Linked DNA regions of Homo sapiens: all the other regions are linked to region 3. The links come from fine-mapping of genetic effects on gene expression. A gene starts in region 3. Each other region holds a variant in brackets. All regions are shown on one strand. Distances are from middle to middle.

Region 1 (10,968 bases), 44 kb after region 3:
GACTTGGCCTTCTCCCCAGCTGCTCTTAAGCCTCGACTGTATTCTTCTTTATCTGGCAACGCCAAATGCATATATTAAGTTTTTGAGTGTGCTTTATTTTTTTATTTTTAGAGAGAGGGTCTCACTCTGTCTCCCAGGCTGGAGTGCAGTGGCATGATCGTGGCTCACCAAAGCCTTGAAGTCCTGGGCTCAAGTGATCCTCCCACCTCAGCCTCTCAAGTAGCTAGGACCACAGGCGTGCAGCATGCCCAGCTTATTTTTTTTTAGTAGAGATGAGGTCTCACTATGTTGCTCGGGCTGTAGCTTTAATATTTAAAATTAGCTAATCTTCAGTGGTTTTCCTAGTTTCCCCTGCCCCACCTGATCCATTCTAAGCATGTTCTTAGGCCTCACAGGTCATTCCTAAGTCTGGTATTTTTCTGATATCACAATATTTAGTTGGGGCTTCTTAGCCTGTTAGAGTTAGTTGTAACTTGGAGATGGCTGGGCTTGAGCCCCTTGCCTTAGAGATAAGGAAATTCAGATAGTTGTGATTTTCTTGTCTGAGGCAACATAGCTAATTAGAAGCAGAGCTGGGACCAGGACTAGGGCTTTTCCTATGCCTTCTGTGTGGTGCCTGCCCTCCCTGCCAGCTGACAGATCCAAGAAGGGAACAAGTAATGGAGTAATTTTCTTTCCCATGTAGCAGTTGAGGCAACATTTGCCAACTCGTTAGATAACAGTACCTGATTTGAATGCCATCTTTCTACTCTTATCAGGAATCCACAAATGGATCAGAAAGACCCCAGACTTCCTGGGAGCTCTGAATGCAGGAGGAGATAACAGTTACACGTGGCAAAGTCTTGCCATTAACTATGGATGTTGTAACTAATTGTAGTTTTGAGTTTGTGCTGCTTCCTGTAGTTTGAGGCTGTCATCACCCCGACTCCCCAACTCCCATGTAAAATCATCACCTTCCCTTTAGCTGCCTGTGTGGTGCTCATCATTGGCATTCTTAGGTGAGCTGTTGAATAGTTAATTTGGTTTGCTTTGACTCGGAATGCTACCGGCTCTAAACATTAAATAACCCTACTGGACAAATGTTAATGAAAAAGATGATTTTCTTCTGTACGTTTATACCTATAAGAATGAGTAGGGTTCTCCAGGCTGGGTGTGGTGGCTCACACCTGTTATCCCAGCACTTTGGGAGGCTGAGGTGGCAGATTACAAGTTCAAGAGATTGAGACCATCCTGGCCAACATGGTGAAACCCCGTCTCTACTAAAAATACAAAAATTAGCTGGGCGTGGTGGCACATGCCTGTAGTCCCAGCTACTCAGGAGGCTGAGGCAGGAGAATCGCTTGAACCTGGGAGGCAGAGGTTGCAGTGAGCCTAGATCGCGCCACTGCACTCCAGCCTGGTGACAGAGCGAGATTCCACTCAAAAAAAAAAAAAAAAAAAAAAAAAGTAGGGTTCTCCATTTGTTTTCTACAACAGTCCAGTCTCTCCATGCTTTTTGCATGATGCCTCTGATGCACACGATGACTTTAAGGTAGGTGTTGGTCTCCATGTCATGAATGAGGAAAGTGCGGCTCAGAGAAGCCCAGTGGCCTGTGAAATCACAGTGTTCCTCAGGCAGAGCCAGCCCACTCGCTCAGTTATATGCCAGCATCCTTTCTGTTTACCACACTGCATCATCTACCTGGTTGCTAAGCCTTACTTGTTTTTTTTGACTCTTGTATTCTGCTGAAGGCTTAATTAAACTTTTCTTTTCTGAAATAATTTCATAGGTTGATGTTCTTAAGGCAACAGCACTCCCTTTGTTGAAACAATTTGGGATTGATGGTGAATCATTTGAACTGAAGGTAAGAATGTTTGAACTGTTGACCATATGTTCCTGTGGAAAACATTTTCCCACTGACTCATTGGAAGAGCTGTGTGACTCAGTGTATGTGTGTCACATTTGAAGTCACCAGTTATCAGAAGACTCACAGGGCTCATGAAATAAACACTACAGACTTTGAACTGAAAGGGACCCTTTAGTAATAACAATAGTAGCTGACAGTGATGTTGCACTTCTTTTGCGGTGGGGGCCGTTCTAAGCAGTTTACAAATACTAACTCCTTTTCTCCTCACAACAGCTCCGCCCATGTGCCTCAGCTAGCAAGCAGTGGAGAATAGATTTGGGCCATATTGGCTCTCTGATCTAAATGATCTGGATATAATTTATGTTCAGGGGCTCCCAACCTGGATGTCCCTGAGAATTTTCAGTATTTCCAAAATCTAGTAGAAGTAGTTTAAGCATCTGTATTTTGTTGAATTATATCAATCCAATGTGGTAAACCGTTTAGCATCTCTGCCTTTTACATTCATGTTTTAAACAGGGGAAATGACTTCATTTTTATTTAATAATGTTTTGGTAGATCCGTTATTTGCATGGGAGGAGAAAAAGGGGTTTCTGATTATTAAGAAATGGGCTCAGATGATGGACTAGGTCAGCTCTATATTTTAAGGATAAAGAAGTGACCTGTTCAGGGTTAAAGAGATGAGTGGCAGAGCCACTTGGGTAATCGACTTGGACTTTGACACATGCTGCACAGGTACTCTCTAGGAGCCAACATAAGGTGCTGTTGGTCTTGAAGGGAATGACAGATTGAATATGGAAGAGCTATGCCTTGTAAGGAAGCATCTGCTGGTGTAAACCTTCCTGGGCAGGGTGTCAGGGTAATCCATTGCTTTGCTGCATCCTCGCCTCATCTTTCTCACTCTCTGTGTAGATTGTGCGACGGGGAATGCCTCCCGGAGGAGGAGGCGAAGTGGTTTTCTCATGTCCTGTGAGGAAGGTCTTGAAGCCCATTCAACTCACAGATCCAGGAAAAATCAAACGTATTAGAGGAATGGCGTATCCTTTCCATTTATTTGGATTTCTTTTTTTTTTGTTGTTGTTGCCTCACTAAGATAAGAATGACTAACAGCTTTACTTCTTCCCGAGGTTATTTACATTTTAGACTACAACTTTGAAAAGTCTTAACAGTGAAATTGTAATTGCTGGCTGAGTTAGGATGTTCTGTTATCTGCCTCACCATGACTAGATTGATTGAGTCATTCTTTTTTTTTTTTTTTTTTTAATTTTCCGGTTAACATTTAGGCAAATGGCTCTGATGTATGTGATCCTCTCTCAAGGGCTTTGGTTTGGGGGCCATGAATATACTGCAGTTCCTCCCTCAGAAGACGTCATCATTCGGTGAAGGAACCAAATATGAAAACACACAGTTCTGATATAACATGCAAAATGATATGTGCAGTGGGGTGGGGGCCTGGAGTAGACAGTGGTCAATTTTGTCTGGAGGACCTAGGGAGGCTGGAGTAATCATAATGAATGATATCTACTATTAAGTATTTACTCTGCATCTACTTCAGTAGTCACTTTACATGCTTTTAAGCCTCACATTGACCCTTGAGTTCACTTACATCCTTTTTTGCAGATGGGGAAACTGAAGCTTCAAAAGCTTAAGGAATTTCTTAATAATGTCACACTGCTAATAATGACAGAGCTAGGATTTGAACCTGGTCTGTGTGACTCTAAAGTACAGGCATTTAATTTTTACTTTTGCCTATAGAAAGGAGCCTTGAAGAACAGAGGATTGCAAAGTAGAGCAAGAAAGGAGGAGGGCTTCAGGCAGAAAAGTGGGCCTGAGCAGAGGTGGCAGTGCACAGTGGTTCTAGGGAGTGGCAAGTAATGAAGTGTGGCCAGATTTCAGGTTGGTCTATGGCATTTGATGGTAGAATGGGGCATGAAGACAGGCAGGGGCCAGTGAAGAGCTGAAGGTGGCTGGAATCAGATACTATGCAGAACGCAAAGAAAGGAGGGTGGAACCCTGTGAGGCCACCAAAACTTGAAAGCAAGAGTTAAGTAAGGAGGGAAGTAAGAGTGGGGAAGAGAATAAACAAAACATAGCTTCCTGGAAGCTCAGGTCAGCACTTTAAAAGGCCCTGAGGAGTTAGCATTGGGGTGGGGGAAAAGCTGAGGGACTCAGCAGCAGGCTGTCACTGATGCCCTGGGGAAGAGTGCTGGATCCCTATCCCAAGGGACTAATTCTGGGTTGTGGAGTGAAGGGGAGGGAAACAGCGGCTTGTGGGGACCACTCTTTACAGAACCTTGACAGGAAAGAGAAGGAGAAGGAAGGATGAGGGAGTAACTTGATGAAGCGAGAGTCAGGGAGACTCCCTCCCTTTTACAAAAAGATTGGTAAGGATTTGAGTGTTTTTGTAGGTTGTTAATGTAGATGAAGCAAAGTAATGAGCTGATTAAAAGCCCAGGTGCTGGAGTCAGAAAGACGTGGGTGCCGACGCCGGCTGCGCCACTTACCAATGGAAGCATTTGGCCGTAAGCCTTGGTTGCCCGTATATCTTTAGTCCTGTTATAACTGCTGTGCGAGACTGTCATGAAGGTAAAATGAGATCGTAGTTGCACAGTAGGAGGCACTGGTGTGTAAGTAGCATTGGGTAAATGGTTACTACTATTCTTTTTATTCTTACTTGAGAGGGGATGGATTCAAGGCCACAGGCATACGGTAAGGGTGGCTCCAGGTAGAGCTGTGTGGAGGTGAGTGGAAGGGGGTTGGGATGAGTTTTCAGTTGTTACCGAGTTAGGATGGGATTGAGGGTAAGGGGATGGGCGGGGTAGGATAAGAGAGTGTGACAAGGATGGTAAAGATGTGCCTTCACAGGGGAGCATCATAACTGAAGATAAGAAAAAGGCTGTGTTCCAGCAGTAAGGTCCTTGCTGAAGGTGTAATGTTAACACAGTGCCAGCTGCATGGCCATGTGGCTATATCCAGTGGCAGTTGGCAGCCTAGAGGGAGGAGTAGAGAACGTGGGAGGACCAATTTCATCCAAGGTTGGATGCAGGTTGGCAAGGTGGGTGGGTCCTACAGGAGGACAGTTGGAGGGTGGGTGCTGGAGCATTGGGAAGTACATTCCTCACTGAGGATTGTCACAGGGGCTCACCAGCCTGGACAAAGCAGGTCAAGGGATGAGAAACTTTAACAGGCTTAAAGATCAGATCTAGTGGAAATAGATACATGTACTGTGTAGGACAAGAGATTGTGTTTAGGGAGTTTTGTTTTGGGATTTCAGATATTAAAAGTGGTAAAATTCTAGGTGCTGACAGGATCTGGGTGGGAGCAGGTGTTGGAGGCCGTAGAGCAAGACAGGCTGTGGGATGACTTTCCTGGCGGGAGTGTGACAAGGAGGGCAGACCAGAAAGCCTGCTTGTCAGGGC[G/T]GGGGTGGGTGCTTAAGGTCGGGTTTTGTGTTCTCAGGAGGTTTGGCAATGGTATTACTTGGAGGAAGAAAGGTGTAGCGTGGACTGTCTTTTCAGAGGCCTCGAATAGCTTGAACAGTAAGTGGTGAAGGGCAGGGAGTAGGGTGGGCTGCAGAGCCATGTGCAGAGAGAGTGCTGGTTAAGATAGAAGCTCAAACTTGGGTTGCTGCCTGAAGTTCTTTTTAAGGATCATCAAAACCACAGGAATACATAATAACAAAGCCTTCCTGGGTTATGGTCTGTTCTCTGCATGGCTGTCCCCCAGCCCATGTAAGCGCCCAGCCTTGTGTGTACCAGGAGAGAACAGGCAAAAGGAGAAATGGTTCCTTTCCTAGGAGCCCCCAGGTTGATGCATAGTTACATTGCCCAGGTGACTTTCTAAGGTGATATTCAACTCTAGTATCCAAATCCGAGGAGCTGGAATAAGGTTAATTAGGTTACAAAGAAATGGAAATGCAATGTAACTAGGTGTGTGTTTTTGAAACCAAATGTGCCTTTTCTACTTGAATTCATTCTTATTAACAGATGCATTGTATTCCACCATATATAGAACCCAAAATCAAATCCTGTTGATGGCCATTGAGTTGTTTTTTGCTTTTCACTGTTGCCAAATACACTGCGGTTAATGGCTTTAACCACAACATTTTTGGCAATGGTGAAAAAAAGTGTAATAAGTGTATAGGAATACACTTTCCAATACATTCCAATAAGTGTACAGGAATACACTTTCAGTACTATTTTGGGTTTGTCTGGGGGGTAGTTGTTTTTTTTCCTCCTTATTTGAGATGTGTTTCCTTAATGCTGTATTGGCGGCCGTGAACTTTGTTTGGAATCCAGTCTCTGTAGTCTGGAAATGTGATTTCTGGCAGTGTGCTCTGTTTTGACACAATCTTGTCATAACAACATGGGTTTCATCACAGTGGGGTCCCCCTTGTTCTCTCTGGGTGTGCAGATGGTCGTGTCCTTTGATGATGATGCTGGGAAATGGGGAAGGGCTTTCCAGGGGAGAACATAAAAGTTAAAAGAGCTGTAGTGCCGGGCACCTTGGGTGTAACTATGTTCCTCCCTGGCTTCTCCCTCTAATGTTCTTGGAACCTTCCCTGTGTAGAATCTGAGCCAGGAAGAGACTTGTGAGGTCCCAAGTTCCTCCCTCCCTGGAGGCAGGGGATAGGACATGGAAATCATCCCCAATATATCTCTGACTGGTTGAGGCTTCCTCCTGGCTCCCCAGGAGAGTTGACACAGTGCCCTTTCTCAGATCCCTGTCTGTTAACCAAACATTTCAGCCACTGCTCTGCAGAGCTGCCCATTTCACAAACACCTCAAAGGAATGTTGGTTTGAATGGAGATCGCCCTCTTCTCCAGTTTTGGAGCCTGGGAAAAAAGAGCTGCCTTTGGAAAAAGCTTGAGTTGGTTTTGTGGTTTTTTTCCTTGCAAGGCTGGTTGACTACTGGACTAAGCTTGGAGGTTGTATTTCCCATGGGAGGGCTCAGACTGGGAGAAAGAGGCCCACTCTCTTGTGTGCATTTGTGGTTTTAACTGAATTACTTCCAAAGTGCATCTTTTCCCTCTTGCGTTCTACAAGATGACCTACCAGCCAGGGCCCAGAGGGAGCTGGTGTTGGTTCCTGCCAGCAGCTGTGACTACACAGTAGTTACCTTTTACTTAATGCCACCCACTCTTTCTCACCCCTGCCTTATGTGGGGCGTAAGAGAAAGGAACATTCTGTTTTAGTTTTGCAGTGCTGTCCTAGGAGCTCATGATTTGGTACATGAGAATTAAGTGAAAAAGCTGGCAGTAAAGGGGGATAAGTTGGAATTCGTGGGATAATCTAGTTTCTTTTCCTTGACTGTAGGAAAGGTACTTTGAGAATCAAGCTCTCTCTCCACCTACTGTAACATACACACACACACCCCTCTTAGCTTTCTCTGACATGGAACATTGGGGAAGGGGAAGAGTGGGAGTCCCATATGGACTGTAGCTATGGACTTGTACATTGGTATTGGTTCTTAATATGGTTTTCATAAATGGGCTTTAGGAGGTTCATAAACCTGAAAAATTTTCTGCAAGATTGTGAGTATATATGTTTCTCAGGAGAGGGTCCATAGCTTTCATCAGATTCTCAGAGAGTTCTCTGATTCTTGAAAGAATAAGAACCTCTGCTTGGGATTTGAATCTTGGATAAGTAATAAAGAAAAGCAATAGCTGACATTTGTTGGGCTCCTACTACACACTAGGCATTAAGAGCTTTACATGCATTTTATTTCATTTGTGCCTCCAAACTCTGTGAGGAAAGTGTTATGATTATCCTTCTTTTACTGATTAGGAAATGACAGCACAGAGAAGTTACCACAATTAACCTGGAGTGATGCAGCTTGCTGGAGCTTGGACTTGAACGGAGATAATCTGATTCTAGAACTTGGGGGCTGTTAGCCATTCCTTAGTAGGACATCCATGCCAAGCCAGATGGTTCTAAGCAACTGGCTTTAAAGTTCCTTTGCCTTCTTCATTTCATTGCCTGAGTTCTAGTATAGGATTCTGTAGGCCCTGAATTCGTACTGTTTGTTAACCTTCGTGTTTTTGTATTGGGATGGGTGAGAGGAGGAAGATGCTTTTTGGGAGTCAGATCTGTTTAATTTTGAGCAAGTGTCTTAGTTTTTTTGTCTTAGTTGTCTTTAATGTAAGTCCTAGAACTCGGAGCCATGGCCCTCAACACAGGGTTACTGTGAGCATAAAGTAAGGTGATAATAGATGTGAAAGAACTTTGGGAGCCGTGAGCTCTGTGGGATTATGTGCTAGGATGGTGACATCTCTTGTGCTTTCCTGGGGACAGTGGGCAGCCTCAGACCTCAGAAGGACAGCACCTGCTTGGTCCAAAGGGTATGAGATTCAGGACTGTTTGTCTAAGCTGTCTGTGGTCAAAAGTACATTCTGGACTGAAGAGATGGTGATGTAACTGGGCTGTGTGTGTATTGAAAAATCCCTCTTTGCTCTTTCCTCATTTCAGGTTTGTCCTTTGAGTCAAGTTAAATATTTATTGAGCATTTCTGAGTACAAAAGTGGTGTATTGGAGAGTTGGGAGGGATTACAGAGGTAAAGCCCTTGCCCTTATAGAGTGTGTGGTCTCATTGAAGAGCAAGAACAAAATGTGCATATGTGAAGAGAGATGTATGGTAAGTTCAAGTGGAGCTAACACTTGGGTGCCGGCTGGAGGGTTTCAGGAGAGAGATTGGGACCTCGGGCTGGGAGAATGGGGCAAAGCAGCTCAGGTTGAGGAATTTGGTCAGTTTGGATGGGTGGAAGGAGTTGATGGTGCAGAGCTGAAGATGGACACAACTGAGCAGGCTGGGGGCTCTAACAACAAGATATGGGAGGACCAGGAGCCACCGAGAGACTGTCACCAGCATGAGGAAGATTGGTCTTTTAGTATGAAGTTCAGGATGGGTCAAAAAAGGGAGCTAGATACCAGATCAGGTCATGTATCGTCTCTGAGCACTTTGTTTCTGCAGTTCAGATGAAAATTAAATATGTTATTGTCAGCAGTTCTTGAACATTGGGCTGGATTGGGCAGATTATATACCTCGTTCTACCTGTTGGACTTGTCACGTGGGGTTTGTATCAGGGTAGTGGGAAGGTCACATGTTATTTCTCCATTTTTTTAGTTCCAAATATATAGCCATCTCTTGACCATACATTGCACATTGAAGTGCTCAATACATACTTACTTTTTCTTTGACATGTGTGGTTGGGGAATGCCAGCTTCTGTTATAAAGTCTAGTTTTAGGCAATAATTTCCATTTCCTCAAGCACCAATCTTTTCACTTGAGTTACTAATATCTTCCTCCTTTCTTTTCTGGGGTGCCCTATTGTAGGAGTGCTAATTATCAATATTTTAACCATAAGGTAGCAGGTGTGAGGAGGCTGTGTTATCCACAAGTGGAGTAATTAATTCTTAAATAGTAGAAAATAGGCCCTGTAAATGAGAAAAACCTTTTTATATATTTATAAATAGCAGCAACCATGTTCTTTCACTGAACTTTTTCTGCTTCTCCCATCAGCATACCAGGAGTCAGATTGGGATCGCCCAGGTCCTGTGTGGTGTCTGTTCTGGGCTTAGGTTCTTAAGAGAGAGACTCATTGGCTACAGCAGTGGGAATGGACAGAGAATAGAAAGTGTTCTTAGGTGTTGTGCTTCAGAGGGAGCCTGGATCATGACCCGCAGAGAGGCAGGTGTCTTTACACCTTCCAAAATTGACTTGAACCATTTCTAGGGGAAGCGTGTGGGTAGGAAGTCAGGGGGTGGGGTTGAGGACCTCCAGCTTTATACTTTCCACTGTCTCTATTGTTTGGGTGTTTTTGCCATGACCTTTTATAATAATGAAAAAAATTTAATTATGGTACTAATTCAGTAAATTCAGTTGGAAAACAATAGATTTGGAAGTCCCAGTTTGTTACTACAGTTCCACAAATACTTGCCAGCTTTATAACTGATTTTTCTCTGTCCTGGAATTCAAGCAGAATGACATCCTTAACTCCAGGCTGCAGGTACTCTGTACGTGTGTCACCTCAGATGGCGAACCGGATTGTGGATTCTGCAAGGAGCATCCTCAACAAGTTCATACCTGATATCTATATTTACACAGATCACATGAAAGGAGTCAACTCTGGGAAGTAAGTATCTGTGTTTTTGAAGTCTGTTTCTGCAGCTTTTTCACATGCCTGTTCTAGTTGAAGTTAAAACTGCCAGCTCTGAGGTTGCGCAGCCAGAGGAAGAACAATTTCAGAATTAATTTCTTTCTGCCTTATTGCCGTTGTCACCAACAGGCATTTCTTGAGTGCCTGTCACATGGAAAGCATCCCAGTGGCTAGAGCTGGAAGCTAAGGGTCTGGTTCCTAGCCTTGGGGAATTAAAACCTTTATCTATTAATACACAATGCTTTAGGCTTTAAATTCCATCTGCACTCTGTTCCAACAAAAAAATTAAAGTGGACAGGTTCTTCCACCCTGAGTAAATAACAGTATAGGGTTAAAATCTTTTGTTATCTAAGTGTAAGTCAGCATCTCTCTTCATCAGTGGAAACAACATATTTACATCCAGAGAAAGTTGTTATTGCAGACGTGAATTTGGTTTAGTGAAAGCCTTTGCTTTGCTAAAAAATAAAAATTTTAAAAATTAGAAAAAAATTCTAAGTAAGGAAAATAAGTTCTTAAAAAATGATGCTCTATGTAATGAAGATACCTGTTTTAGGCTTTGCTTGTGTATTTAGCAACTAGGAAGTTAGAGAAGCAATTAAAGCCACTTTCTTAAAATAGGAAAGTGTTAAACATACAGAAAAGATCAAAGAATAGTACAGTGAACACGGAGATATACTCCTGCTGCCTATAGTTAACGATAAATATTTTGCCAAATTTGCTTCACTTGTTTGTGGGTTTTGTTTGTTTTTGTTTTTTACTGAATCATTTCAGTGTGAATGGGCATCATTTCACTTCACATCTGAGGCTTTGCAGGTTGTGTCTCCTAAAAATAAGAATATTAGAGTCTGGGGTTAACTGTTGTAGGTTAAGAAGTCAACTTCTTCTTAAGTGATGCCACAGCTGATCCTTTTTCACAGCTGTTTCACCTGTGGTTTCTTTTAATTTCAGCAAAAAGAGGAAAAGAGAGTAAA
Region 2 (10,968 bases), 58 kb after region 3:
TGAGATCCCCTATACTTGGTTAGAAGAGGGTCACAAATCTGGGTCCAAGATTTCTGTTAGTCTGCACCGTCTTTTGCCTTGGTCCCACATCAAGAAGGTGAAACCTTTTCTCTGACATGCAGAGTCCAGGAAAGGCTCTGAAGGATGGTCGTTTCTCTGCTCTGTGTGTTAGGTCCCAGATTCTTGAACTGAGCATCAGCAAGAACTATACTCTAGTTGATTTGCTGTTGTATGGTGTATAATGTTTGTAAATCATCTCTCTTCTTCCCCTAAGGAGCTGAAGAGACTTCTTTCTTTGTATTGTTCTGTGTATTTCTTCTCAGTTGTCAGGCATCTTTCTGGTCTCCAAGTAAGTTTTCTCGTTTATGGTAGCAAAAATCACATCTGAGCCAAGTTAAATAAAATCAGTAAAACAGGTAAAGTGGCAATTTAGTTTTTCTTTTAATTCTTCCTTTTGCCACTGGTTCAGTTTATTAATCAGGGTGGTAGGGTAAAGCCTGACTAGCCATAGGTATTGATCCTCAGACCAGCCTCACAGTGGAAAACAGCTTATATTTATAGTCTACTCCCTTGATCCAAGTCAGTGTTCTTGAAAATGTCTCATTGGTCCAAGATGGAACACATGAGAATGAGCTGTTTCAGAATTAATTAAATTTCCAGGTCCTAAATGGCTCTATTTAATGACCATCTAATTAAAAATGGAAGACAGTGGACCTATAGTTTTATTTTCAGGAGAGTAGCTCCAGCCCCTCTACTCGGCATTCACCTGGGAAATAGTAGAAGAAGGAGATGAAATCTTCCTGAAGGAGGAGGTATTCTTTGACAAGTCTTGTGCAGTCACGATCTGGCCTCAGATGTTTTGGTGCTAAATCAGTTTACTTTTTTATGCTAAATTTAATAATTTTGTGAAAAATGGGTAGTAACTAAAAGTTTGGGGTAGATGATCAAGAGGTTGCCCTGCCAGTTACTTAATTCACGAAGTTTGTGGTCTACTTATTTGTAGGGGGGCGGGAAACAGTGCATGCAATGTGTTTCCCTGGGTCTCTTGTTGTGCAGGATTTCTTTTCCTGGTCCTGTAGTGTCTGGCCGTGGCTGGTCCTGTAGTGGCCTTCTCTCTAACTATGGGGACACTTCCATGTCTTTCTAATAGACCTTGGGAGAATTAGAAGCATCACATTATACAGTAGTCCAGTAGGAGCCTATGGGCACAGCTAGAGTGTGGGGTTTATATCCCTATAAATAGCAGGCTATAAGCCTCAGGGTAAAAGCACCTACCACTCCACAAGAGGAAAAACATGCAGTTTAAATTAGGTTCTTTAATATTTTTCTTTTTTTTTTTGAGGAAGAGTCTCACTCTTTCCCAGGCTGGAGTGCAGTGACGTGATCTTGGCTCACTGCAACCTCTGCCTTCTGGGTTCAAGTGATCTTCCTGCCTTAGCCTCCCATGTAGCTGGAGGCATGTGCCACCACGCCTGGCTAATTTTGTATTTTTAGTAGAGATAGGGTTTCTCCATGTTGGTCAGGCTGGTCTCGAACTCCTGACCTCAGGTGTTCCACCCGCCTCGGCCTCCCAAAGTGCTGGGATTACAGACGTGAGCCACTGTGCCTGGCAATTTTTTTTCTTTAGTTGAGATCTACTTTCAGTCTTCCATTGTGCCTGGACCAAATTTCTTTCGTTTTCTTTTAGTTATTCAGAAAACTTCCTTTTTATGTCTATGATCTTTAATTATTAAAAGGATGGAAATACTTCATGTTTTTCTGAATAATTTTCTGTAGAGTTGTGATGTGACATGGATTGAATGAGTGGTAAAAAATCCATCCCTTTTGAAGGTGCTATTTATCAAGTTTTAAGCCTCTGATCTAATCCCCCCTGTTCCATTTATGCCTCATCGGTTACCAAGCCTTCTTGATTCTGTCCCAGGCTTTCTGGAACTGCCTTTTCTTTCCATCCTTTTCACTGCTCTAATCACTGCCTGCCTCCCTGCTCCACTCCACAACTGGATTATGGCCACTGGCTCTCTGCATTTCTAGCAGAGAAGTTCTTTCCAAATCCTAACATCCTTTTCAGGCTAAAATACTGATCTGATCTCTTCACTCATGTGCACAGAGACCTTCACTGGCTTCTCACTTTCCTGGGACAAAGTCAGAATTCTCGACCCATTTCGGAAAGGCTTGCCTTAATTGGGCTACCCACCTTCTCTGTGCTGTATGTGCTTCTCCACAGGCAGCAGTGGTGCCTTCCAGGCTGGTCACCTGGCCATTCCTTGCTGGCCCTGGCATTTTATTTTTCCCCATCATTCTGTTCTTCCTTCCTCCCCAAACCCTGCTCATCTCTCAAGGGCTGGCTCAAGTAGTCCTGAGTCCTAAAGCCCTCCTCAGGTATCTGGCAGGTGACACCTCCCCCCAGCATAGGTAGGGTGATAGCCCCTACCACTTCCTCCATGATGTCCTGTACAGGGACCTTAGCTATCTATTACATTAAAATACTGGTCCAGTGAATGGTGAAATAACAACAGTGATAGGAAGCAGAGACTGAAGAGAACACTTTAATTTTAGGCTGTCTTATGAAAGGGAGCAAGATCTATAAAACAGTTTTGTTGGTCGTCATATTTTCCATGGGTCAGGTTTTTCTTTTTGGGTAGAAAAGGAAAAGGAACTCTCCTTGTCCTAGAATTTGCTATGTGATCTAAATGTTGTTTTCTGTCCTTTATTAACTAAGGTAGTTTAGGGACGTGCAATAGATTTTCATAAAGGCTAGCAGTAAGATCAATCCTTATTTCCTTCACCATTATTAGGGCTACTAAATGATATCTGACAGCCAGAGAATTTCAGAGTGTCTGTATCTGAAAATGGATTTATTTCCTACCCTACATGCCTTAAAAAGGAGGCAGGGGCAGTTGTAGCCATATGAACCACACTGCTGGCCACCTATCCTGTTCAGTCTAGCCTTGGATAGTAACGTGCCTTGGTCAGACTGGATTTCTAATTTTGACCTGTGCAAAATATGTAGAAATTCAAGGTCATCCTTCTTTGACTATGTACAATATGTTTTAAAGTTATTCCAGAAAGAATGATCAGAAAGCGTGTTTGTATGCTTATGTATGCGTCTAGTGGAGGCAAAACAGTTAAAATGGCTGAGAAAATGAAAAACAAAAGAAGAAAGGCAACCTAAGCAGTTGTACCTCAGGAGAAAGTGTTTGAAGAGAAGTCTGTTCTGCTTGTTAATTTGGAAGAAAGGGAAGGAAAAGGGGGTGGAAGGCATAATTTTATACATAAGTAGTAAGAATAAAGGGATCTAACCTTAACAAGTCTTCAGTTTTAAGGAACTCAGGAAGAGATAAAGGAGAGAAGTTAATAGAGTATGGCAAGCAGTTTCCTGAATGTATTTGAATAAGTGTAAAAGTAAGGCCATGAAAAGGCCGTTTCATGTCAGATAGACTGTGTTGTTCTGTGACAGATTCAATAAATATGAGCGTCATCCACTTAACCCTTGGAATTAACTCTACATCTTCTAGAACTGATTAAGATTTTTTTTTTTTTGCATATACTCAATAAAGATGATGTCCTCCTGCTGCTGCTTTAATGATAAAGGGAAAGTTTCATTTTTTTTTTTTTTTACTAGATTCACTTAAGAAGATTTGAATCTGATAGTCTCATTCTGATAGTCTCAACTATTACAGTTGCTCTAATTAACTGTTAGTTTAACCCTCTACAGTTAGTTGATACAATGATTACTCTTATAAGACCTGTATTCTGTTTTATTGTTGCTTGAACTTTGGATTTTGATATTATGAGTGTATGTTTCTGGTTTTTTTTTTCCTCCTCTCTTTTGTTGGCTTTCCATTTTCTGGTTTGTACAATTATTAATTTGTGTTTACAGGGTGGATGCGTAGACTCGACCAACCAAAGCCTGGCGCTACTACTCATGACCCTTGGACAGCAGGATGTTTCCAAAGTCCTGCTAGGCCCTCTCTCTCCCTACACGTAAGTTATTCTTTTTCAACCTCGTTATTCTGTCCAGTGTAATTTTCTCATTGCCCAAAATGACAAAGGGTGTTGTGCTGCACAGAGCCTGCACTATGAACACCTGCTTGTGTTTATCCTCAAATCAGCCAGCAGTTGTCACTCTTAACCTGGTGTTTATTTTTACATACAAGGATTTTTGCATTTCTTTCCTTCCTTAATCCCAGGTAACTGAAATTGCATGATCTCTATTGGGCAGTTATTTTGTTCGTGCTTTAGATTTTGTTTCCAGGTTAGAGGTAAACTCCTGGTTTGGTGTAGCTTGGATTTTATTACTAGTTTTTTTTTAATCATTCTTTTCCTTAGCTGTCTAACTTGCTGTGGGAAAACAGGCTTTTTGTCTAAGATGATAGGATATGAGCTCACTGGGAAAGATGACAAAAGACAGAGTTTGTATTAATGCTACTGGACTAGTAGGGAATTGTAGAAGTGAGTTTGGATTGTTGAATGTTAGCAGAAGTTGACTGCTGTGGTGTAAAAGCAAGCACTCTTCAAAAAGAACAGTGTCAGAAGACTTGAATTATAAATGACACTGTGAAAGAAGCATTTCCTATTGATAGTAAATGAGGTTGCGGAAAACAGCCTATTTGAGTACTGACATTGTGTGTGTGTGTTTTCACGTGCTTGCATACTTGGAGATCATCATATGGCCCATCTGAGGTTGGTGAGCTGGGTGGCAGGGAATATTCAGGTAGATATGAGACTGAACTGTCCTTTTTCGGTTATCATGGTACCGATGCTGTATATCTGAAAGGTACAGTACTGTGATAACTGAAGAATGGTGGTGCCATCACATTGAGAAAGGGTTGAGGACTGCGGTGGGGCTATGCACCCTTGGGCCATGGCGTTGGGGGCATGAAAACCAGGAGCTTGAAATAAATTCTTATGGAGGCTTTTTTTTTTCTTTTTTTTTTTTTTTTTGGAATTCGTGGTGGGAGGTTTTTTTAGAACAGGAAAATGGAAGAGAATACATTCTGTTAGCAGAGAGGGAAGACTGATAAGCAGGAAACTGGTAAGGACCACATTATCTCCTGATAGCTTGTGTAAAAGTATTTCGTAGGACAGGATACCTAAAATTGAGTAATCCTAAATGGCGTGGTAACATCAGTAGTAAACAATGCTAAAATAGACTTGGTAGTTAAGTACTTGGAGAGGAGATGAGGGCTGGAAGAATGGCACCCTAGGTACAGAGACTCGCTTCCTGTAGAGAGCTCACTGGAGGCGGCTGCCAGCTGTGTGGCCACTGTGGCCCCACCGGCTTTGTAGCTGGGCTCGTAGCTGCCGTTTCCCAGCCCTTGCTTCAGGCCTGGGGAAGTCCTGCTTGCACACACGGTATGAGGTATGGGGTGTTGTCTTGAATGTGTGTGGTCCTGGGGCATGGGGTTTGGCAGAACATTCTGTGAAAATGGAATACATAT[A/C]TGTTTTTTTTCGTGACACTTTTTTTCTTTTGCTTTTGGAGATTTTTCAATTTGGCTCCAGGACCTGTATGATGTTTTCAAGCTTTGCAGAGATGCTCAAGATATGACTGGACATTTTTGAAAGTTCCTGTGTCCTCTTCAACACATCTTCTCACCAAACATTAATTGTAGTGTCTTTTCTTCCAGAAAACTTGCATAAAATGACTTCCTCTCCTGTGAAAACAGTGTCCTGCTCTGAATGGAGCTTTAAAGGAGTAGCACAAATTGTAAGATGATGTATCTTGAGGCTGGGGCTTAGAGATATTCTGCTGCCTCCCAGAGCTTTGTGCAGACGGGTCTGCCAGGGTGGGAAAGGGAAGCCTCCGTTCTTTTTGGTAAGCTAGCATAAAGACAGGTAAGGGAGTCTATTTTCAAGAAAGCTGGATCTGTTTCATACTCTTTCTGCCCCTAATCACTATGGACAGCTCCAGCAGCACAAAGAGATGAAGGGCAAAGGCAGGATGCAGCAGGCAAAGTTAACATTGTATTTGTGAGTACAGTTGAGGATAAAAAAGGGATGAAATCCACGGTGAGGACCATCATGGTGGGGGAATAGTTTATTCTAATGGATTCAAGAGCTTTGGAGACCAAACTAACACATTTATTTTTATGTGTAGTTAAAGTCATAGAAACCTGTTTTGTGAAACCTCAGATTTCTAAAGAAAACCAGAAGCAAGACCTTCCTTGGTTTAAAAAAAAAAAAGCATTTCTTCAAGCAGTTTGGACCTGTTTTTCGTGTGTATAAAACAGCTTTTTAAATGTCTATGTAAAGAGCATTGGGATTGCTGTTGGTGGTTTTCTGTGCTACTTGAGAAAGTAAGTCTGTATGTGTGAAACTCTTTTTTTTTTTTTGAGACAGAGTTTCGCTCTGTCGCCCAGGCTAGAGGGCAGAGGCGCAATCTCCGCCCACTGCAAGCTCCGCCTCCCGGGTTCAACGCCATTCTCCTACCTCAGCCTCCCGAGTAGCTGGGACTACAGGCACCCGCCACCGTGCCTGGCTAATTTTTTGTATTTTTAGTAGAGACGGGGTTTCACCATGTTAGCCAGGATGGTCTCGATCTCCTGACCTCGTGGTCCACCCGCCTTGGCCTCCCAAAGTGCTGGGATTGCAGGCCTGAGCCACCAAGTCCGGCCAATGTGAAACTCTTTTAGAAAGGCCCAAGAGATTTTTTTTCAGTAGAATAAAATACTGTTGGATAATCACTGGTATATGAAGATTCTATTTCTGTTAAATTTGTTGAGTTTTAGGTGGCTTACAGTTAGTGACAGTAGTTGCACCCTCCATTCAACAAGCTTAATTTTACAGTTTAGGGAGGGAGGATTTATACTTTTGGATTAACAGCAAGAAAAATAGCAAAAATTAAGATGCATCTTAATTAGCACTTTCAGAAATTATTTGTGGAATGAGACTGCAGTTACCAGAGCTCTCTGCATTCTGCCAGTGCACAAGTCTTGGAGTCCAGCCTATCTGGACTTAAGGCTCTACCACGCGCTACCAGGAGACCGTGGAAATGGTATTTAGCATCTTGGAGCCTTGGTGTCATTTGTAGATAAGGTGCGTGGTCCTGAAGTCCTGGACTTGTGGAGATGGAACGAAGCTTAGATTAAGTCAGATGCTTAGTGCTCCTGGCAACGTGCCTGAGGAGCTGTCAGTGCTGGGTGCTGTGGTTCCTGCCTGGACACCCCTTCACCCTGCTGCAGTCCAGTCCCTTGGTCAGGTCACTTTTTTTTTTTTTTAACTGCTCCTTGAGGAGCAGGACTACCCCAGAGGCAGTGTGGCTAGAGTAGCCCGGTCAGGTCACTTTGAACCCCAGGAGGCCTAGTAAACTTGCTTTGGGTGATTTTAGGGTTTAAGTCATCTGTAAGTGGTCTGCCCAGCTACCTATAAATCTATATCCATTAATTTTAAATTATGGATTAAAAAATTTTAATTTCTAGTTATTATTTTTATGACTGACTTCCCCTAGTCACATTACTGAGCAAACTACACACATCTTATTGATCCTAAGAATTCTGTAAGGTAGATGTTTATTTAAACAACACCGTGTTTACTGTGTGCAAGATGTTGTTTTAAGCACTCAGACATAATAACTTATCTGGTTTTCATCATAACTTCATAAGGGCAAAAAAGGCAAGTACTATCATGTGCACCGTCTTACAGGTGATGGGATTGAGGCACAGCGAGGTCAAGTTACGTGCCCAGGGTCACACAGACAGTAAGTGGGGTTCAGACCTGGACAGTCTCCTCCAGTCACTGCTTCCCTTACCCACTGTGCTCTTTTTTTTTTTTTTTTTGAGACGGAGTCTCCTCTGTCGCCCAGGCTGAGTGCAGTGGCGCGATCTCAGCTCACTGCAAGCTCTACCTCCCAGGTTCGTGCCATTCTCCTGCCTCAGCCTCCTGAGTAGCTGGGACTACAGGCGCCCGCCACCATGCCCGGCTAATTTTTTGTATTTTTAGTAGAGACGGGGTTTCATCGTGTTAGCCAGGATGATCTCGATCTCCTGACCTGGTGATCCACATGCTTCGGCCTCCCAAAGTGCTGGGATTACAGACGTGAGCCACCGTGCCCGGCCAACCCATTGTGCTCTTATGTAAGAGCTGGGATTCCATCCATATCGCTGGACTCCAAGCACCTTGCCTGAGGCAGGATGCCATGCTACATCTTTTCAGCAAAGTCCTCGTTTCAAATTCTGCTGTAAAATGATCTCTTTCTATCTTTAGTTGGAAATCTAAAATAAACCGTGACTTTTTTTTTTCTAACTTTAGTTAATGACCTTTTTCCATGACTGTGGAAGTGCTGAGGAGCTAGAGGACACTGTCCTTGTTAAACACCAACTGAGTGGGGCTTCCTAGCCCACTCAGCCTAAAGCTCAGCCCTCTGAAGAACCAATGAGGAAACCAGTGGGGAAACTGGGAACTGCCGGCCAAGCCTGCCTCTACTTGGGGTCAGTGGCCTCACTGCATTCCATGAGCTTGCACAGTACCACTATGTCTTAGTTTTGTGAAGCGTTTAAATTCTGTAAAGCCCTGTCACCTGATGTTTGAGCCCTAGAACATAATTGGTGTATGGTAAAAGCAAGTGATAGCCTTCCTTCTCAGATAAAAAAGAGGTCACTGACCTGCTTATGGTGAGATCCTGTCTGAACTGGGCCTGGGACCCCATCTCCTGACAGTGCAGCTAGCCTAGTTCTCTGTTTCCTGCTGCCTCAGTAACTGAATGTAGTAATTTCATTTGGAGCAGAGGTCAGCTTGTCTTTGGAAAAGCCTCTATTCAGCAGAAAAAGCATCAGCAGTATATTTAAAAGCTGCCATGTAATGACTATAGGGACTCCATTGAGCAGATCCTTTTCTTATCTCCAGATCTTTTCCCTCAACTTCCAGAGCATGTCCTTACACCTGAGATGTAGGTACCCCCAGCTCTGTCCCATATCCAGTGGCATAGTAACCAGGTGGCTTAGTGGAGGAGGACGCAGGACCCTCTGTTGTGGTTTGTGCCTGTGGGGGCTGCCAGAGAGAGGGCTCACCCCATGATTGCCTTCACCCCAATCTCTCACATGCTTCAAAAGAGGGGTCTGGTGGGAGGGGCTGTGTTTAAGGGTGGGATCTGGCAGCCTGTCAAATCCTGGTCAGTTGGGATTCAACGGACCCATGACCACAAGCCTCATGGCCTTTCCTGTTGACCAGCAGTGGCAGTGGGAACAACTCACCTTTTGAAAATACATAGGAAGGCCGGGTGCGGTGGCTCACACCTGTAATCCCAGCACTTTGGGAGGCCGAGGCGGGTAGATCACGAGGTCAGGAGTTCAAGACCAGCCTGGCCAACATGTGAAACCCCGTCTCTACTAAAAATACAAAATTAGCCGGGCGTGGTGGCACATGTCTCTAATCCCAGCTACTCGGGAGGCTGAGGCAGGAGAATCACTTGAACCTGGGAGGCAGAGGTTGCAGTTAGCTGAGATCGCACCATTGCACCCCAGCCTGGGTGACAGAGCAAGACTCCGTCTCAAAAAAAAAAAAAAAAAAAAATAGGAAAAGTTATCTCTGTGCTCCAGAATTCTCTGAAACCTGCTTGTCAGATGGACTAGAGGCTTTCGTAGAAAAGTCAGTTGCTTTTTGTTTTCTGAAAATCATTTTGTCCCGGGGAAAAAAAAAGCCTCACTGCAGATAATCATTCTCTATGTTAGGTGTTAAAATCCTTTACACAGGAGTTGCATAGAGCCCCTACTGCCTAGAATGGTTCTTCTGAAAAGCTGCTATTTGCGCTGTGTGGGTGGTTACTCATTGAGGGGCAGAGCTGCTCTCGGTGAGCGGTGGGTCTCTTTGCCCTGGGTGTGTGGCTGTGTGGTTGTGTCTAGGAAGTGTGAATCTCCAGTGTAGTGCTGTGGAAGAGAGGGGCAGGGAAATATGAACTCAAGAGGCGGTGCCTCAGTGCAGCTGCTGCTGTGGAGAGCTGTTGGGCTGTGGAGCAGGACGTGGATCAGCACTGGACAAGACTTTGTTCAAGTGCATGTAGATACAGGACGAGCTTACTCTTCATTTGCTTTTCGTTTTCTTAAGGAGGCTGTTTGCTGGGATTTAATATTGTCTGTGGTTTTTTTTCAGGTTGTGAGCATTTTTGCTCTTCAATATCCCAGCTGCCAGAGACATAGGGAGAATGGGGCTAGAGGTGGGGGAAAGATTCTGAAATGTACCTTAATCTAGTCTCTTACACAGTCTTCCTTGGACAGGCTGAGGAGTTGGCAGAACATTATGTAAAAAGTGGAACTAACTTTGCTTTTTCTAACTGTTCCAAAGGCTACAAATACCCCAAACTTGCAAATACACAGGCCTGCACACTTGAGCCTGTGTTCCTCCCATCCTTCTCCAAGAGATCAGAAGCAAGCTGAGGGCCCGTAGAAATTCTGCCAGCTGGGGAGGGTGTCTGGTTTTTCAAGCACAGTTGAGTGATTCAGAGTGAAGTAGGCTGGGTGACATCCTGGGAGCAGAGCATGCCCCAGGCCTGTGTTAGTTTGAGGCAGCAGCAAAGGAGAGACCAATCTGTTTTCTCCTTCAGATGCAGAGTGGGTGAGATGGCTGGCTTTTTCCAGGTTGCCGCCAGCTGGAAGCTTTGCCCACAGATGTGGACTGTTTATCTGTGGTTTGCTGTGTTTTCTTTTTTCCCTAGGACAGGATGGGGGAGATGGTGGGATGGATAGAAAGCAACAACGACAACAGAAATTTAATTGGTTAGTAAGACAGGAAAGCCAGCAGGGAAAGCTGACTTCCCTTAATTGCCAAGAATGTTGAAAATTGTTTCTCAAAATTACCCCAACTCCTAAATTCTATCCAGTGCCTCTTTACTGAGAACCTTTACAGTGCCTTGTTTGAATAACGGGTTCAGTGATGGAGAAGAGCCTCTTTACTGAGGCTAAATTCTATTCAGTGCCTCTTTACTGAGAACCTTATACAGTACCTTGTTTGAATAACGGGTTCAGTGTTGGAGAAAAG
Region 3 (10,968 bases):
TGAAACAAATGATAGTAGACATGCAACATATCGAAACCTATGGGATACAGCAAACCCAGTACTAACAGGGAAATTTATAGCTATAAGTGCCTACATCAAAAAAAGAAAAAATATTTCAAAGAAACAACCTAATGATGCATATTAAAGAACTAGAAAAGAAAGAGCAAACCAAACCCAAAATTAGTAGAAAAAAGAAATAATAAAGATCAGAGCAGAAATAAATGAATTTGAAATGAAGAAAACAAACAAAAGATCAAGAAAACAAAAAGTTGGTGTTTTGAAAACATAAACAAAATTGACAAACCTTTATCTAGACTAACTAAAAAAGAGAGAGAAGACACAAATAAATAAAATTAGAGATGAAAAAAGAGACATTACCACTGACACTGCAGAAATTCAAAGCATCATTAGTGGCTATGATGAGTGACTATATACCAACAAATTGAAAAATCTAAAAGAAAGGGATAAATTCTTGGACACATACACCCTACCAAAACTGAACTATGAAGAAATGCAAAACCTGAACAAATCAATAAGAAGTAGTGATATAGAACTAATAAAAAGTCTCCCAGCAAAGTAAAGCCCAGGACCTGATGGTTTCACTGCTGAACAAATCAATAACAAGTAATGATATAGAATTAATAAACACTCTCCCAGCAAAGTAAAGCCCAGGACCTGATGGTTTTGCTGCTGAATTCTACCAAACATTTAAAGAAGAACTAATACCAATTCTACTTACACTATTCCAAAAAATAGAGAAGAAGGGAATACTTCCAAACTCATTCTATGAGATCAGTACTACCCTGATACCAAAAACAGACAAAGACACATCAAATAAAGCAAACTTCAAGCCAATGTTTCTGATGAATACTGATCCAAAAATTCTCAATGAAACTGAATTCAACAACACATTAAAAAGATCATTCATCATGACCAAGTGTGATTCATCCCAGGGATGCAAGGGTGGTTCAACATATGCAAATTAAGTAATGTAATACATCATAGCAAGAGAATGAAGGACAAAAATGATCAAATGATCATTTCAATTGATGCTGAAAAAGCACTTGATAAAATCCAGTATCGCTTCCTCATAAAAGCCCTAACAATACTGAGTATAGAAAGACATCCCTCAATATAATAAAAGCCACATATGATATACCCACAGCTAATATCATACTGAATGGGGAAAAACTGAAAGCCTTTCATCTTTTTTTTTTTTTTTGAGACACAGTCTTGCTCTGTCACCTAGCCTGGAGTACAGTGGTGCGATCTCAGCTCGCTGCAACCTCTGCCTCCCAGATGCAAACAATTCTCATGTCTCAGCCTCACCAGTAGCTGGGATTACAGGTGCATGCTACCACACCCAAATGGAGTTTCACCGTGTTGGCCAAGCTGGTCTCAAACTCCTAGCCTTAGGTGATCTGCCCGCCTTAGCCTCCCAAAGTGCTAGGATTACAAGTGTGAGCCACCACACTGGCCACCTTTCTTCTTTGATCAGAACATGACAAGGATTCCCACTTTCACCACTCTTATTCAACATAGTACTGGAAGTTTGCAGCTACAGCAATTGGACAAGCGAAAGAAATAAAGGGGATTCAAATAGGAAATGAAGAAATTTAATTACCCTTGGGTGTGGGTGGCTCATGCCTGTAATCTCGGAACTTTGGGAGGCCGAGGCAGGCAGATTGCTTTGAGACAAGCATGGGCAACACAGTGAAATATCATCTCTACAAAAAAATTAAAAAATTAGCTGAGTGTGATGGAGCATGCCTGTACATGCCTGTAGTCCCAGCTACCAGGGAGGCTGAAGTGGGAGGATCACTTGGGCCTGGGGCGTTGAGGCTTCAGTGAGCCATGATCATGCCACTGCACTCCAGCCTGGGTGACCGAGTGAGATCCTGTCTCAAAAAAAAAAAAAAAAAAAAAGGCGGGGGGAAAGAAAAAAGAAAGAAAGAAAAGAAAGAAAAGGAAGGAAGGAAGGAAGGACGGGAGGGAGGGAGGGGAAAGAAAGAAGAAAAAATTTTCCTTGTTTTTAGATGATATAATTTTATATTTAGAAAAACCCAAAGTCCACCAAATAAATATTAGAACTAATAAACAAATTCAGTAAATTTGCAGGATACAAAATTAACACACAAAAATCAGTAGTATTTCTCTATGCCAACAATGAACAATCCAAAAAAGAAATCAAGAAAGTGATCCCATTTACAATAGCTAAAAAGAAAATAAAATACCTAGAAATGAACTTAAGAAGTGAAAGATCTCTACAATGATAACTATAAAATATTGATGTAAGATTTTGAAGAGGCCACAAAAAATAGTAAGGTATTTTATGTTGACAGGTTGGAAGAATCAACATTGGTAAAATATCCATACTACCCAAAGCAGTCTCTATTAAAATACCAATAATATTCTTCACAGATATAGAAAAAAAATCCTAAAATTTATATAAAACCACAAAAGACCCAGAATAGCCAAAGCTATCCTAAGAAAAAGAACAAAACTGGAGGAATCACATTACCTGATTTCAAATTATACTACAATTAGCTGGATGTGTTGGTGCATGCCTGTAATCTCAGCTACTCAGAAGGCTGAAACATGAGAATCGCTTGAACGTAGGAGGTGGAGGTTGCAGTGAGCTGAGATCATGCCACTGCACTCCAGCCTGGGTGACAGAGTGAGACTCTGTCTCAAAAAAAAAAAAAAAAAAAAAGAAAAATTAAAAAAAAATACTATAGTAACCAAAATGGCATGGTACTCGCATAAAAACAGACAAATGGACCAGTGGAACAGAATAGAGAACCCAAAAACAAATCTATAACCCTACAGTGAACTCATTTTCAATAAAGGTGCCAATAACATACACTGGGGAAAAAACAATCTCTTCAATAAATGGTGCTGGGAGACCTGGATATCCATATGCAGAAGAGTAAAACTAGACTGCTTTCTCTTGCCGTGTACAAAAACCAAATCAAAATGGATTAAAGACTTATATCTAAGACCTCAAACTATGAAATGGCTACAGAAAATATTGGGGAAAATCTCTAGGACATTGGTTAGGCAAAAATTTCTTGATTAATAACCCACAAGCATACGCAACCAAAGCAAAAATGGGATCATATCAAGTTAAAAAGCTTCTGCACAGCAAAGGAAACAATCAACAAACTGAAGAGACAACCCAAAGAGTGAGAAAACATATCTGCAAACTACTCATTTTGAGATATCATCTCATCCCAGTTAAGATGGCTTATATTCAAAAGACAGGCGATAACAAATACTGGTGAGGATGTGGAGAAAATGGAACCCTTGTACACTGTTGGTGGGAATGTAAATTCGTGCAACCACTATGGAGAACAGTTTGGAGGTGCCTCAAAAAACTAAAAATAGAGCTACCATATGATTCAGCAATCCCACTGCTGCGTGTATACCCAAAAGAAAGGAAATCAGCATATCAAAGAAATATCTGCACTCCCATGTTTGTTGCAGCACTCTTCACAATAGCTAAAATTTGAAAACAGTCAAAGTGTCCATCAACAGATGAATGGATAAAGAAAATGTGATACATATACACAATATAGTATTATTCAGCCATAAAAAAGAATGAAATCCTGTCATTTGCAACAACATGGATGAAACTGGAGATCATTATGTTAAGTGAAATAAGCCAGGCACAGAAAGAAAAACATCACATGTTCTCACCTATTTGTGGGATCAAACAATCAAAACAATTTAACTCATGGAAATAGAGAGTAGAAGGATGGTTACTAGAGACTGGAAAACATAGAGGGGGTGGGGATGTTGGGGGGCAGGTGGGGATAATAAATGTGTACAAAAATTAGAAAGAATAAGATCTACTATTTGATAGCACAACAAGGTGTCTGTAGTCAACAATAATTTAATTTTCATTTAAAAATAACTAAAACAGTATAATTGTTTTGTTTGTATAATAACACAAAGAATAAAATGCATGAGGGGATGAGTACCCTATCCTTCAGGATGTGATTATCACACATTGCATGCCTGTATCAAAACTTCTCCCGTACCTCATATATACATGTACCATCTACCTACAAAAATTAAAAATTAAAAAAATTATATGGAACCACAAAAGACCCAGAATAGCCAAACCTGTCCTAAGCAAAAAGAACAAAACTGGAGGAATCACATTACCTGACTTCAAATTATACTACAGAGCTAGAGTAAACAAAATGGCATGGTACTGGCATAAAAACAGACACATAGATCAGTAGAACAGAGCGGAGAACGCAGAGATAAATCCACACAGCTACGGTAAACTCATTTTCGACAAAGTTGCCAAGAACATACTCTGGGGAAAGGACAGTCTCTTCAATAAATGATGCTGAGAAAATTGGATATCCATATGCAAAAGAGTGAAACTAGATCTCTATCTCTTGCCATTTACAAAAATCAAAGAAAAATGGATTAAAGGCTGGGAGTGGTGGCTCACACTTGTGAGGCCAAGGTGGGCCAATCGCTTGAGGTTAGAAGTTTGAGACCAGCCTGGGTAACATGGCAAAAACCCATGTCTATACAAAATACAAAAATTAGCTGAGCATGGTGGTGCACACCTGTAGTTCCAGCTAATGGGGAGGCTGAGGTTGGAGGATTACTAGAACTCGGGAAGTTGAGGCTGCAGTGAGTCATGAGCATGCCACTCCACTCCACTTTATAACACACTGTTGTCTACATAAGGCTAGCTACATCCCTTAATCTTAAACTCCCACCGCTTTCAGACACTATCATACCCCGCCCCCCTTCCCCCCGCGAACCCCCGTGCATTCTGGGACTCATGGTTTGGTGAGTGTTGTCCAGGAATGGCTACAAACCCACATTACTATGATATCGGACTTCTACTTGTGTAGTCATTTGTTAGTTAACTGTACATTTTGGAAGGTTTTTGAGTAGAGAAGTGAAATAATCCAACGTTTGGGAAGATTTTCTTGTGCAGGATTGGAGGAGGACGGGAAAGAGGGAAAAAGCATTGCGCGCGTGTGTGTGTGTGAAGTTATTACAACTATCTATCTTGAAGCATGCGAGGTAGGAGGGCCTGAATTGCCATGAAACGCAATGACGATAAACGAAGGGACCCGTGAGAAAGGGGCAAAGAGGTGTCTCAATAAAATAAGCAACGGCCTGCTGTGGGAGGATTCGGGTCTCAGTATAGGCTGCCACTGTCAGCTTTGCAATATTCCTCGAGCCTTTATCCATGAGTAGGACAGGATGGCTCTACCTTGCAGGGTTACAGCATGGAGCTGCGGGACTGCGCCGGCAGTGCGCTGAGCGGCATCCCTGCGATAGGGTGAGTGCACCAACCCTTGTTGTCTCTCTTAGTAAGAAAGAGGAGGGGTAGATAATAGCATCTTCACCCCAGTAGTTGCCGTAAGTAGTAATGCTAAGAATCCGGCACGTCGTAGGCATCAATCTCAGTCCGCCATCTCCCCTTGCTACCACGCCAGGAGGTACACAGAGGAGACTGCCCCGACTGGCAACTCCCGCGCCGGGGTTCCCTGGCCATCCTCCCGCGTTCCCTCCAGCCGCGCGCTGTTGCCAGGGCCCGGGCACCGCCCAGCTCCACTACGGACCAATGGCAGCGCGGCTTGGGCACCGCCCAGCTTCAGCGGAAGCCAATGGAGGCGCGGCGCGGGCACCGCCCTGATCCGGCGCGGGCCAATAGCGGCGTGGCCCGAAGCGGGGGCCGCCCCGGTCGGGCGGGGAGGCGGGGAGGTGGCCACTGGCTCCGCCCCGCTCCCCTCTGACCCGGTGTCTAGTCTCTCCGTCTTCCTGTTCCAAACCACGTGGACGCGTCTGGGCTGCTGGAGGCAGCCCGAGCCGCCGCCGTCGGTGTCGCCGCCACCACCACCATCGGAGTCACGAGTCCCGCGTCTGTCCGAAGTCGCCGCTCTCGGGCTGCTCACGTCTCTTCGGAGAGCGCGCACATGGCGACTCAGGCGCACTCCCTCAGCTACGCAGGGTGCAACTTCTTGCGCCAACGTCTGGTCCTGTCTACCCTGAGCGGGCGCCCCGTCAAAATCCGAAAGATTCGGGCCAGAGACGACAACCCGGGCCTCCGAGGTAACTTGGTGTGGGCGGCGCGCGGCGTGGGCGCGGGGGCTGAGGGGAGACCGAGCTGATGCCGTGGGGGCCCGCGCGGTGTTGGTTGGGCGGCTCGGCGTCCGGCGAGCGCGTCGGGGAGGGCAGGTGGCGCGTCGCCTCCAAAGCCGGAGGGGCAGGCACAGTGGGGGAGGCGGGGTCGGGGCCCGAGGGGAGCGCTCAGCTGCAAGCTGCGCTCGGCGTCTCCGGGGCGCTGGTAGTAAACAGCTGCACGTTTTCCAGCTTTACGTGTAGCAACAAATCCCTGGCGTCGCCCCTTCGCGTCCCTTCGGCCCCTCTTGCCCTCGCCATAAACCTCTCAAAGGAGAAAAACAGTTTGTTGGACCGAAATATGGTGAATGAGCCGGGGGAGAGACATTGGGAGAGAAAAGTACCTTGGGTTGGTTCTCTGCCCTGTCTCAAAGCAGTTCTCAGAAGCAGCTGCCCCCTTGGACACCGGCTGTTCCTGTCGCCATGATTTCTCGGCTGCCCTCACACTTGTCCTTGGGTGTGGATAAAGAAATTTTTAAAATTCTGTGTTTGTTTTCAGCCGTGACTGTGATTGATGTGCGCAGGACAGGAGCTTTGAGATAGACTTTTAACAGTCATGGGCCTAATTGCCTTGACTTTAGAAAAGGGGTCGGTGACAATCGCTAAACTGCAGGCTTCCAAGCTCACTTCTTGCTCTGCAATGGTAGGTTAAAAAGAAATAGGCCCATTTAAACCCACATCTCATTAAATGGCGCCGGTTTTCAACTGGCCTTGGTTTACACCTGGCCCCCTGGCATGAGATACATGCATTTAAAAGCTTCTGACTGGTGGTTATCCCAAGTTGGGCGAGTCAGTAGTCAGGTGAAAAAGGAAAAAACCTGTCTGTAAATTGAAAAAGAGTGTTTGTGGTTGGTCCTGGAAGCTTCCTGAGCGGCGCTGATGTGTTTCATTTTGCACTGGCTCTTGTTTTATCTGTCTGAATGCATTTTTTGGATAGTTAGATCTCTGCCTCTCTTGGGTGGTGATTGGCTGCACATAAAGGGCAGAAGATGCCATGCTATTGACGGAGATAGGTTAGGAAGGAAAGAAGCAGAATATCCCAGGTACAGTGGTGAGAAACCTAGTGATGGTAGGAAAAACTTGTGTTGGTGGTTCCTGTCCTCTCTCTACTGCTCAAAAACACTGAGAAAGTTAGGGAGAGACCACAAATGGTTTATGCCACGACTTTTCCGTCAACAAGTGTTCCACTTAGTTTGACCCTTGGGCAAAGTGTTTGCTTGATTGCTGTGTGGCATTCTCAGCCAGCTCTCCATCCACTTTACCCTCAGGTTAGCTCAGAGAACTTGCCACTAGCTGGATATGGTAAGAAGATGGACTTCTACTTTGTATAAAAGTAGGCATAACTTTTTTTTTTTTTTCCAGAGAAATGGAAGTATAGCCTGGAAACCTGGGTTCTCTAAAATGAATCTAGTTCTATTTAGAGTTTTTCTATTGACAGGTGGCCTCCAATTTAATATTTAATGTTCCAAAGTATGCTTCTCCTTCTCCCCCTCCACTGTATGTGAGCATCTCTTCAAAGCATCTCACACATATGAGCTCCCGTTTCTTCCAAGAACAGGGCTTGGCCACTTGGCACTTTCTTGAAAGGGTGTCAGACGCTGATACCTGAGGGAGGTAGAACTGCTTGGCAGGTGTGCTGGTATTTTATGGGGAACATTACTGTAGAGCATTATTTGCCTTACCCCGTTCATATACCAGGGGAAGAAAGAGACTCCTAGTTATTTGTACATCCTTGCGCTGGCTTCAGGGCCTCAGAAACCTTGTAGATGTTTGTCTGCTTAATTTCTTTCTTTTTTTTTGAGACAGAGTCTTACTCTGTCTCCCAGGCTGGAGTGCCGTGGTGCGATCTCGGCTCACTGCAACCTCCGCCTCCTGGGTTCCTGCAATTCTCCTGCCTCAGCCTCCCTCGTAGCTGGGATTACAGGTGCCTGCCACCATGCCCAGCTAATTTTTAGTAGAGTATTTTTAGTAGAGATGGGGTTTCACCATGTTGGCCAGGCTGTATGAAACTGCTGACCTCAGGTGATCCGCCTGCCTTGGCCTCCCAGAGTGCTGGGATTACAGGTGTGAGCCGCTGCGCCCAGCCTGTCTGCTTAATTTCTTACAGAGGGAACAGAGAGATAGATATGCATTTGCAGATATACATGTATATGTGTATATGTATACACATACATGTAAGTGTATATACATATACGTGCACGCATAAATAGATGTAGTCCCTGACACATGATTTCTGGTCATAATCAAGGGAGTCCTTGGTAGCTTGATTGAAGATGTAGCCGGAAGCCTATGTTGCCCGTCATCTGTCCCTTTCTGACTTTTCCTAACTCAGATTCTCAGAGTTGGAAAAAACTCAGAGCATATCCAATAAAATCTTCAGTTCTAATGCAAGAATCACATCTCTTCAAGGTGCTTGCTTAAAACATCCCTCATGGTGTGGGCTTTGGAGGGTAGGGATAGTATGGGAGGCTTTCGGCCTCAGGAACATTTATTTAGAAAGTGTTTATTGAGCCACAGTATGTGCAAGGCTTTGTATGGGGGTGAGTGTAATATATGTGAGAAGCTGGTTGCCCCTGTTCTCATGGAGCTTGTCATGTAAGTAGGATGTTACTAAGTTTGAGTAACTTGAAGTAGGAAGGATTGAGTATTGTACAGGGGCTCAGTGGAGTTCAGAGCAGACACTTCCCTGAAAGTTACGAAGGAAGGCAGGTTTTCTGGACCTGATCTGGACAGATAGGATTGAGATGGTGGCTGCGGAAATCATTGTTTGCAAAATAAACAGTTCTTTTTTTAAAGAAATTTTATTTTAGAGTCGGGGGTACATGTGCATGTTTGTTACATGGATATATTGCCTACTGGTGGGGACTGGGCTTCTGGTGTACCCATTATCCAAATAGTGAACATCGTACCCAATAGGTAATTTTTCAATCTCCCTCAATCTTCCTCCTTTTCCAGTCCCCAATGTTTGTTATTTCCATGTTTAAGTCCATGTGTATCCATTGTTCAGCTCCCACTTATAAGTAAGAACATGGAGTATTTGATTTTCTGTTTCTGAATTAGTTCTCTTAGGATAATGGCCTCTAGCTCCATGTTGTTGCAAAGGACATTATTTCATTCTTTTTTTTGAGACAGAGTCTCACTCTGTCATGAGTGCAGTGGTGTGATCATGGCTCACTGTAGCCTCAACCTCTTGGGCTCAGGTGATCCTCTCACGTTAGCTTCCTGAGTAGCTGGAACTACAGATGTGTACCACAGCATCTAGTTGATTTTTAAAATTTTTTTTGTAGAGATGGGGTGTTGTCTATGTTGCCGAGGCTGGTCTTGAACTCCTGGACTCAAGCAGTCGTCCTGCCTCAGCCTTCCAAATTGCTGGGATTACAGGCATGAATAACCATGCCCAGCCTGATTTCATTCTTTTTTATGGCTGTGTAGTATTCCATAGTGTATATATACCACATTTTCTTTATCTAGTCAACCATTGGTGGACACTTAGGTTAGTTCCATCACTTTGGTATTGTGAATAGTGCTGCAATAAACATACAAGTACAGGTGCCTTTTTTGTATAATGATGTCTTTTCCTCTGGGTAGATACCCAGTAGTGGAATTGCTGGGCCATATGGTAGTTCTATTTTTAGTTCTTTGAGAAATCTCCATATGAAAGAAACAGTTTTTAAGTCAAAAAGTTCTTTATTTTCTTTATTTTACTGAGGTAAAATCCTTAATTTGTCATGGTCATAATACTTGGCAATTAAGAGCTTGGGGTCAGTATTGGACCTTGGTTTGAGTACGAGTTCTGCCTTTCGCTATTAGCTCTTGGTCCTTGGGCAAATTATTTTAACTATTCTCTTCTGAGCCTCAACTTTTTCACCTGTAAAGTGGGGCCAGTACTACTGACTTCACAGGGTTATTGTGAGGACTAAATGAAATAATACTTCAAAGTGTACTGAACAGTGCCTGGCACATAGGAAGAATAAATGTTAGCTGATTTTATTATTATGTAGCTTGAACCCACTGGGTATAGGTCTGCTCCCTGGCATGCCAAATCCGTTCCTGCTTCTATATGGAAATTTTTCAGATATTTGAAGAGAATTATGCCTTCTGTAAAGTTCTTCTCCTAGGTGGTTGTTTCCACGTATTTCTATGTTATATGTAAAGCACAGTAGTTTTCAACCAGGGGCACTTTTGTTCAGTGGGGGACATTTGGGAGCATTTGGAGACATTTTTGGTTGTCACAGCTTGGCAGAGGGGAATGCTACTGGCCTCTAGTGGTTAGAATCCAAGGGTGCTGCTAAATATCCTACAGGACAGCCTCCCACAACAAAGAATTATCCATTCAAAATGTCAGTAGTGCTGATGTAGAAAAACCCTGGCCTACTTGACAGTAGTAATTAAACCTTTTCTTTTCCCTGTATCCCTAATGATTAGGAATAGCAGCATGTGACACCAAGAAGACTACACAAGGATTTAGAAACAAATGAGACACAGATCAAACTCTGTGACTTCAGGCAAATCATTGAATCTCTTAAAACTGTCCCCTTCCATTGCAAAGGGGTTGTAAATACTGAAAGGAATCTGAACCCCAAAGAAGGATGGTCCCGGGCTGGTGATTATAATTGTCCAGCCACATGTATAATTTATGCTTCCGTTTTGAGGAACATGAACAATTAAGTTTATCTCATTGTACTCTTCCTTTCATTGAAGAGGAAGTAAATATTTTTTCTTGTTGCTGCTGTTTTACTCAAGGTAAAAAAGCCAACCCGTAGTTAGGTAAGATAGTTGGTGAAGACAAACGTGTAGTGAGGGACA

Evidence for each region. PIP is the estimated chance that this variant, and not a neighbour inherited with it, causes the effect.
Region 1: its variant is fine-mapped to the expression of RCL1 in sun-exposed skin (GTEx, PIP 0.97).
Region 2: its variant is fine-mapped to the expression of RCL1 in tibial nerve (GTEx, PIP above 0.99).

What each region holds. Positions count from the first base shown.
Region 1 is chr9:4,831,385-4,842,352 of GRCh38, forward strand. It overlaps RCL1 (RNA terminal phosphate cyclase like 1), which reads left to right. Exons shown (of 9, transcript NM_005772.5): 4 at 1,770-1,844; 5 at 2,757-2,881; 6 at 9,848-9,973. Among named protein-coding and RNA genes, the nearest start is that of MIR101-2, 13 kb to the right of the region's middle. RefSeq lists an enhancer at 1,845-2,139 and a silencer at 10,925-10,968. The variant G/T (reference allele first, on the strand shown) is at 5,264.
Region 2 is chr9:4,845,567-4,856,534 of GRCh38, forward strand. RCL1 (RNA terminal phosphate cyclase like 1) reads left to right here. Exons shown (of 9, transcript NM_005772.5): 8 at 3,881-3,984. MIR101-2 (microRNA 101-2) reads left to right here and starts at 4,731; the gene lies at 4,731-4,809. LOC124902113 (a long non-coding RNA gene) reads left to right here and starts at 4,801. Exons shown (of 2, transcript XR_007061402.1): 1 at 4,801-7,696; 2 at 8,248-10,968. The variant A/C (reference allele first, on the strand shown) is at 5,442.
Region 3 is chr9:4,787,135-4,798,102 of GRCh38, forward strand. RCL1 (RNA terminal phosphate cyclase like 1) reads left to right here and starts at 5,810. Exons shown (of 9, transcript NM_005772.5): 1 at 5,810-6,093. The coding sequence starts at 5,958. RefSeq lists enhancers at 5,067-5,116, 5,937-5,986, 6,061-6,560 and a silencer at 5,497-5,856.